Regions from separate parts of the Homo sapiens genome. Here region 1 is linked to region 2. Evidence: fine-mapped expression QTL. A gene starts in region 2. The other region holds a variant in brackets. All regions are shown on one strand. Distances are between the middles of the regions.

Region 1 (4,382 bases), 90 kb after region 2:
CCAAGAGACAATGGTTAGGGGAGGCAATGAGGTATTTGAAGCAGAATGATGACATATTCAGGTTTGGAATTGAAGGCCCACTCTAGCTGGAGTATAGCAAAGATTGAGAGCTCACTTAGGCAGCTGTGGTAATCCAGGTGTGAAATAAAAGTGGCCTGGGGATGAAGAAATGTGAATATTTAGAGACAGATTTAGGGGGTAAAATCAACAGAGTAAGAAGGAGTCAAGAATGATTTCCAGGCTTTTGGCTTGTGCAGTTAGATAGAGGGTGATTCGTGTTCCTGAGATAGGTATAATGAGAAGAGGAGTAGGTATGGTGAAGGAAAATGGTGAGTTTGGCTTTGAATATGATTTTAGTGGCTGCTAGGCATTCAAGTAGAGATTTCCAAGGGGGCTGTGGATCTCTGGGTCTGGAGTTCAGCAGAGAGATCTGAATTGAACCCAGAGGTGGGGAGTTGTCCTTGTATCAGCCATAACTGAAGCCAAGGTATGGATGAAATCCCCCAAAGAAAACAGTATCTAATGAGAAAAGTGGGATGGAACTTCAAGGAAGCCATCACTAAGAGCATGGGAAGAAGAGGGTTTTGCCAGAAGAAAGGGCCAGAGAGGAGGCTATGGTGACATGGAAACGAGGAAGGACACATTTGAAGGGGAAATTGGTCCATGGTGTTGGCTGTGCCTGAACCTTCAAGGAAGAGGAGGATTAAAAACTGCTTATAGGCAATCATAGTCATTATTATTTTAATAAAGGCAAAACATGTACATGGAAATAAAAAATTCAGACAGTAGAGAAGAGAGCCAGATGGAAAGTATAAATTCTCTACTTCCAGGCACCCCTGACCAGTCCTTTGGTTGGACTTAATGATAGAGATCATTGGTGATCTTTGCTGGGGCAATTTGAGCAGAGTTGTGAAGATGAGGTGTTGAGAAAAGTGGTGAAAAAGTGGAACTCTGCTGGGCGCGGTGGCTCATGCCTATAATCCCAGCACTTTGGGAGGCCAAGGCAGGCAAATCACTTGAGGTCAGGAGTTCAAGAACAGCCTGGCCAATATGGTGAAACCCCATGTCTACTAAAAATACAAAATTAGCCGGGTGTGGTGGTGGGCGCCTGTAATCCCAGCTACTCGGGAGGCTGAGGCAGGAGAATTGCTTGAACCCGGGAGGCGGAGGTCGCAGTGAGCTGATATCGCACCATTGCACTCCAGCCTGGGTGACAGAGTGAGACTGTCTCAAAAAAGAAAAAAAAGAAAAGAAAAAAAGAAAAAGAAACTGGAAATCTTTGAAGAAGTTTGGATATGAAAGGGAGATAAAAGGTAAGCATTAGTGAGAGGTGCTGGGGGGTTGAGAGAGGGGGCATTCTGTGGTTGGTGTGTGTTTTAAGATGGAACAGACTAGAACATGTTGAAGACTTGGGTGAATGTTAGTGGAGAGGAGGAGAGGGAAGTCAAGGTACAGTAGAGAGAATGTGAAAAGAATGTGGACAGGGATGGGATGCAGAACCCTGGGAGAGCAATTTGCCTCAAAAGGAAGGTCTAGGGTCGTAACTGGAATGGTGTATTTGCTAGTGAGTCTGGAGGTTTTGGTGGCAGAAAGTTGAGGCCATTCCTGTCTGGTTGCTTCTAGTTTTCA[G/A]TTCTTATGCCACTTGCCTAGGTGATCAGGTAAAGCCCCTACTCCAGGGCAGGCACTGTGATGTGTTGCTGGCCTGATGCCTCCTCAATAGGAACAGCGTGCATGTTGTTTAAAGTGCAGTCTCTGTGGGGCTAGGGAACAACTGGTTAGCTATATGGAATTAAATAAATTCCTATTTATTGGTGTGTGTTTTAAGATGCAACAGACTAGAACATGTTGAAGGCTGTTGGGTGGATGTTAGCGGAAAGGAGGAGAGGGAGATCAAGGTACAGTAGAAAAAGTGAGAAAAAAATGCGGACAGGGCTGGGATGCAGAACCCTGGGAGAGCAATTTGCCTCTAAAGGAAGGTCTAGGGTAGTAGACCAACTCAATTCTTATAAAGTAAGATTCTAGAGATATCAAAGATTTTTTTAAGTTATAAAACATACAATTATACAAAAAAAAATGTCATAGAGACCCATAAATTCACTGCCAAGTTAAACAGATGTTAATGTTTTGCCTGATTTGTTTCAGATCTCTGGTTTAAAAAAAGGAATAAAATGCTTGTGCTAATAGCTAAAGCCCACCTTCATATTTAGTCACTCTCCCTCCCGCCAGAAACAACCACAACCCTCACTATGTTTGTTTTGTATTTTTATTACTGATATATATATTACAGACAATAGATAGTGTTTTGTGTTTTAAAATTATACATCAGGAGTATCAACTTGTTTTTTTCACTGATCAGTGTGTTTGCCATTCAATGGCATGACATGGAACTCTGGTTGAGTGATTTTTTTTTTTTTTTTTTTTTTTTTTTTTTTGAGACAGAGTCTCGCTCTGTCACCCAGGCTGGAATACAGTAGTGCAATCTAGGCTCACTGCAACCTCGGCCTCCTGGGTTCAAGCGATTCTGCTGCCTCAGCCTCCTGAGTAGCTGGGACTATAGGTGCCCACCACCACGCCCAGTTAATTTTTATATTTTTAGTAGGGAAGGGGTTTCACCATGTTGGCCAGGCTGGTCTTGAACTCCTGACCTCAAGTGATCCACCCACCTTGGCCTCCCAAAGTGCTGGGATTACAGGTGTGAGCCACCGTGCCTGGCCTGGTTGAGTGATTTTAATGTCTGTATTGTGTTTCATTGCTTACTTACCCATTCCTCTGTTGATAAACAGTTGGGTTTCAACTCTAATGCCCTTATACACAGTGCTGCAATGTAGGTCTTATTGTGAGTGTACAAGAATTTCTCCAGGGAAATACCTAGAAAGTAGAATCACTGGGTTACAGGAGTGTATGTTATTGGTGAATTCAATTTTTTGTTTGTTTTGTTTTGTTTTGTTTTTTGAGATAGAGTTTCACTCTTGTTGCCCAGGCTGGAGTGCAATGGCGTGATCTTGGCTCACTGCAACCTCCGCCTCCCAGGATCAAGCGATTGTCCTGCCTCAGCCTCCTGAGTAGCTGGGACTACAGGCGCCTGCCACCATGCCCAGCTAATTTTTGTATTTTTAGTGGAGACGGGGTTTCACCATGTTGGCCAGGCTGGTCTTGAACTCCTTACATTGTGATCCGTCCACCTTGGCCTCCCAAAGTGCTGGGATTACAGGTGTGAGCCACCATGCCTGGCCCTCAATTTTTTTAATGATTGAAAAAATATATAACCTAAAAGTTATCATTCTAACAGTCTTTAAGTGTACAATTCAGTGGAAACATTCAGTGTTCTATCACCATCACTACTATTTCCAAAACTTTTTTCATCATCCCAAACAAAAATAACTCCTATTTCTCCCTCTCCCAGACTCTGTTCTACTTTCTGTCTGTATGAGTTTCCTGTTCTAGGTACTTCACATGAGTGAAATCATACAAGATTTGTCCTTTTGTGTCTGGCTTATTTCACTTAGCATGGTGTTTTCAAGGTTCATCCATGTTGTAGCATATATCAGAATTTTATTTCTTTTTATGGCTTAATCATGTTCCATTGTCTGTATATACATTTTGTTTACCTATTTATCAATGGATGGACAAATAGGTTTTCATCTTTTGGTTACTGTGAATAATGCTGCGATGAACATTGGTGTACAAGTATCTGTTTGAGTCCTGTTTTCAATTCTTTTGGGTCTGTACCTAGGAGTAGAATGTGCCTTATGGTAATTCTAGGTTTAGTTTTTTGAGGAACTGCCAAACTGTTTTCCATAGCAGTTGCATCATTTTACATTCCTAGTAGCAGTGCACAGGGTTCCAGTTTCTCCACACTACCTCCATCACTTATTTTCCTTTGTTTTCTTTTTCTTTTTTTTCAGTAATAGCCATCTTAATGGGTGTGAAGTAGTATCTCATAGTGGTTTTTGATTTGCATTTACCTAGTGATTAATGATGTTGAACATCTTTTCATATGCTTGGTGACCATTTGTATATCTTTTTTGGAGAAATGTCTATTCAAATCCTCTGCCCATTTTTGAATTGAGTTGGTTTTTGTTGGTGAGTTGTGAGAGTTCTTTATGTAATAAATTCTGAATATTAATCCCTTATCAGATCTATGATTTGTAAGTATTTTCTCCCATCCTGTGGTTGCCTTTTTACTATCTTTTGTTTTGCTTTGTTTTTTGGAGACAGAGTTTCACTCTTGTTGCCCAGGCTGGAGTGTAATGGCGCGATCTCAGCTCACTGCAACCTCCGCCTCCCAGGTTCAAGCGATTCTCCTGCATCAGCAGTGTCCTTTGGTGCACAAAAGCTTTTAATTTTGATTTCCAAGAGTTTTATAGTTTTAGCTCTTAAAT
Region 2 (4,382 bases):
ATGACCACAGGGAGACCGAATGTCATCACCTGGAACGACATCCACCACAAGACCAGCTGCACAGGGGGACCCCAGCTGTGCGACCCCTCTTCATTTCCTTTCCCTTGGCTCCTCCCCTTTGTTCCATTTCCACTGAGGGACCCACCAACCCCTCGCTCACGGAGCCTCCTAACTGGAGAGAACCACTTCCAAACTGTTCAGCCATCTCAGTTTCTCCTACATTCAACCTGGTCCTGGTGTGCCCAGCTTAGCCTACAAAAATAAGCAGAACTGGGCTAAATTATCTTGGATTTGGAGGTGTCCTCCCTTAGGGGAGGTGGGGAGGTGTCTGAGCCACCTAGAATGAGGGTGAGCATGGGGATAATAGCAAGTTCAAACAGCTAACAACCCTCACCCTCATTTCTCTTTGCTCCCAGGTTTGGGTACCCAGACCCCACCTACCTGACCCGGGTGCAAGAGGAGCTGAGAGCGAAGGGTATCACAGATGACTGAAGGACATCGCCTTTGCCAAGGCCCCTGCTGTCTGCCTCTACTAGGACCCAGCAGAAGCCTCTTTCTCCTCTCTGCCCCCTGCCCCCCACACCACACCTGTAGGGGACCTGTCTGACTGGGAAGGGAGTTCCGAGAGGGAGGGGGCAATCCCTTCCCCCATCCCCCACTGGCCAAGTGTTTCAATGCAGTGTGAGCCACTCCCTTCTGGCAGAGGCCGACCTCCAAGGCTCTGTTCTCCCCTCCCCGTGTACATATACTCCCGGTTTCCCTGCCCCTCCATTGCCCTTGGCTTTTTCTGGTATGTGCTGTGCTCCACGACCAAGCCGAGAAAGGACCTAGGGTGGGGAAGGGAGGGTCTCTTGATTCCTAACCGCCCCCACATACTGCTCCACCGCTGAACTTCGGGTGCCGGGGAGGAGAAATTGGGCTGATGTGAGCTCCCCGTCACCCGCCATGGAGCCGGCTGTGTGTGTTCATCAGATACAGTTCTCCCTTAACCTTGTCCTTTCTCTCCTGTGTCTCAGTCTCCGTCAGTCTGTCTTTCTCCGCTCTTCTCTGACCCCTGTGAGGAACCTCCTTACCCTGTTCTGGAATCGCTGCCAGACTGTAGCTTTTAATTTAATAAAAATAAAGTAAAATATGCAACTCTTTATGCCACACCCGTTCTTTTCCAGGGACTGGGTGGGGGTGGGGTGGGGAGAGGGACCTGCTGGAAAGGGGAGAGGGGATGATGGGGTGATCCCTGCGTGCACTCCCAGTCCCTCTGCCTCCTGAGGACCTGGGGAAACGGGATGCACCAGCGGGCTCTGTAGTAACACTGAGAAACCCTGGGTCACTTCGATGTTGGAATTAGTATTAAGAGGGTGTTTTTTTGTTGTTCAACTATGGTTGTAGAGAAAACAACCCTAGCCACTCTGCGAAGTTTGGCTGGGGTGGGAGTGGGGGCGGAGCCGGGCAGGGGGCGGATTCCGCAGCAGCAACTCCCCGGACGCGCGCAGGCCTCAAAGCCCCCCAGCTTCAGTGCCCCCTCGACCCTGAAACTTGGAGCAGGGTGGGGGTTCAGTATGAAGCCCCCGGACCGCCCCGCCCCTGGCCGCACTGACCGGATACTGGGGGTCATGGGGGGCATGCTGCGCGCATGCGCCCTCCCTGGGCAGGAGGGGGTAAGAATGGGGGCTCGCGGTGGGGTCGGGGGTCTTTCGGGGCCTTCAGGAGGGCTGCACCCACAACTCAACTTATCCGAAAACGAGTTCTGCGGGGCAGTCGCAGGAATACATGAATTCTATTACGAGGGCCATAGCCCCGTTCTGGGCGAGCCTTTTATAACAATGTGGGTTTTGACAGGTAGGAGAAGGGGAAGGGGGAGGTCAGGGCTGCCTAGGAGGGCAGGTTCCTTACAGTGGTTCTGTCCCCGCAGCCCCCAAGGAGAAGCCCTCTAGGGTTGGTGGGTACCGAGCCAGAGTCTGAACGTACGGAGGGAGATCACAGAAGGGATCGCGAACATGAGGTCCTCGCCGGGGCTCTGCAGCCCGGTAAGAAGCTGGGGGTGGGGTGGGGCACAGTTTGCTATCCTGCGCCAAGTGGCGAATTCAAAAATATTCTATTCTTATTAGCATAAAGTTCGCATCTAATTTGCATGAGACCCATTTAATCGCAGAGACCTCCACTCTTCTTGCCTTCGAGTCCAATGTGTGTCCCCCATCCCAGTCGATCCCGAGCCCTCGCAGGCAGAGTGTCCCCGCGCCCCACCCCTGGCCCCTCGCCAGCCCGGGCTCCAGGACTTCGCCTTAATTGGCGATTAGTCTTAGCTGGAGTCCCGGGGCCTGGAGGAAAGAAGGGTCCTGAGAGAGGGCGGCATCTGGGTTGTGTTCACCCACAAAAGACTCCCCATACACGCACCCCGTACCAGGGGGCCTCTGTCCACTCGGCCGGGGACAGCCCCAAACCCAGAACATCTTCGCACAGGCCAAGGCCCCATCCACTGAGTCCTCCTTCATCGCAGAGGCCAAGGGGAGACCTGGGCAGACCCTGCAGACAGGCTGAACCCCGACCCCAGCGCTCCGCAGAGCCCGGGATGCGAGAGGGAGGGGGACCCCGGGGCAGGGGAGCACGGGCTGGGGAGGGGAAAAAGCGCTGGGGACGTGGAGTGGGAACGTGGTGGTGTCTGGGGGAGGGGCGATCGGGGCGGGAACCCGGCGCAGGCAGGAGGGGGAACGCGATGGAGAGGGCGGAGCTGGGCCGCAGAGGCCCCGCCTCGTGGCGGCCCCGCGGCCAGGCCTGTTATTCAGCTCTCCGCTCCGCTGGGACCCGCACAGCGCCAGTGGCTCGGGGGTCGGCCCTCGCCTCCTCCCCGGCCCGGGCCTAGAGCCACCCCTAACCAGAGGCCGGAGACAGCTGGAGCGGCTGCCGCATCCCGGCCCAGCCTCCCCTACCATCCCTCCCCCTTCCACTGGACATCTGGACCCTAGGCCCCCGCACCGACAGGGTTCCGGAAACCCTCCCCGCCCAGCCCGGCGGCCGGGCCCCGCGCCTCTCTCTCTCTAGAGCCCCCAGCCCTCCTCAAGACTAGACTTCCGCCTACCCCTGGACACCTCCTCCCGGTCCCCTCCCTCCCCCCCTCCCACAGCCTGGACCGGGGTAGGAGGGAGGGGGGGTGTGCGCCCGGCGCCGTCCCCGCCCCGCCCCCCGTGATTCCCCCTGCATGGCCGGCCCGGGTGGGGGGCGCGGGGGGGCCCGGGCGCCATGCGGGGGGGGCACAAAGGGGGTCGCTGTGCCTGTCCCCGTGTGATCCGAAAAGTGCTGGCAAAATGCGGCTGCTGCTTCGCCCGGGGGGGACGTGGTGAGTGCCAGGTCGAGAGGGTCCAGTGTTGAGTGGGGGGCGGGCTGGGGGTTCAGGGCATCTGTTTGCCCTGGCCCTTGGGATTTAGGGTTGGAGACTGTATGTGTTTTCCAGGAAAGTGGTTTCTTAAGTGATCCCTAAGGTCCCTTCTGCCTCCAAATTTCTGTTAGTTCAAGTTAAGGAAATAGGGGAAGGGGCAGGGAACTCATCTCTTTCCCTTTGTCAAATGGGTTTGAGAAAAACCCACCCACAATCCCCTTAGGCCTAGAACCGATTATTTTCCTCAAACCTTTTGCTAAGAATCTACTTCTGAAGAGGGACAGGAGAATGGAGGAATGAGAATGAGGTGGTTCTACAAGGGGCTTTATAAGGAATCACAGCTCTCTGTCGCTGAGCACAGGCCAACGATAACCCTGATGGACCCTCCTCACTGGCCTCCTCTATTGGGTCTACGCATGTGTTGGGGAGGTGGGCTGCAGAAGTCTTTTCTTTTTATAGTGATTACTGCAATTGGTGGAGGAGGGGACTGGGAGTGGCAGATGGACCCAGCTCATCCTCCCCTCTTCCCAGAGAATGGTCTGTACCCATTGAAAGAGGGAGGGTTGTAGGAGAGCAGATGGCCACCCCCAGCTTCCAATGTCTGCCCAGATGGCTGCCCCCACCCCCATATCTATGCTATGCTCAGGATATGGGGAACCTCCACATGTAACTGGGGGTTCCAGGCCTGGAGAGCCAGGCGTTTACCTTACTGTGCTTTCTCCCAGGGGTGCCCTGGTGAAATTTTCTATCCTGGCCAACTCAAATGAGGATGGCAAGAGAGTGAGCCCTTGGAGAGAGAGGCTGAGCATCATGAAGAGAAGACCCTGGGAGTTCCCTGGGGACCCTGAGTCTGGAGCTGGGGCAAGGTCTATCACCTCCTCTCTTTTTCCTCCCATTAGAATCCTATTCCATTGCGGGCAGTGAGGGGAGTATATCGGCTTCTGCTGCCTCCGGTCTGGCTGCCCCCTCTGGCCCCAGCTCTGGCCTCAGCTCTGGCCCCTGTTCCCCAGGC

Evidence for each region. PIP is the estimated chance that this variant, and not a neighbour inherited with it, causes the effect.
Region 1: its variant is the best candidate, but not a certain one, in a credible set for the expression of ARHGEF25 in unexposed skin (GTEx, PIP 0.50).

What each region holds. Positions count from the first base shown.
Region 1 is chr12:57,698,862-57,703,243 of GRCh38, forward strand. All of the region lies in intron 5 of OS9 (OS9 endoplasmic reticulum lectin), which reads left to right. Among named protein-coding and RNA genes, the nearest start is that of OS9, 6.9 kb to the left of the region's middle. The variant G/A (reference allele first, on the strand shown) is at 1,630.
Region 2 is chr12:57,608,661-57,613,042 of GRCh38, forward strand. It overlaps ARHGEF25 (Rho guanine nucleotide exchange factor 25), which reads left to right and starts at 2,775. Exons shown (of 15, transcript NM_182947.4): 1 at 2,775-3,331; 2 at 4,270-4,382. The coding sequence starts at 3,235. DTX3 (deltex E3 ubiquitin ligase 3) reads left to right here. Exons shown (of 7, transcript NM_178502.4): 6 at 1-77; 7 at 417-1,142. The coding sequence ends at 492. RefSeq lists a silencer at 2,668-3,187.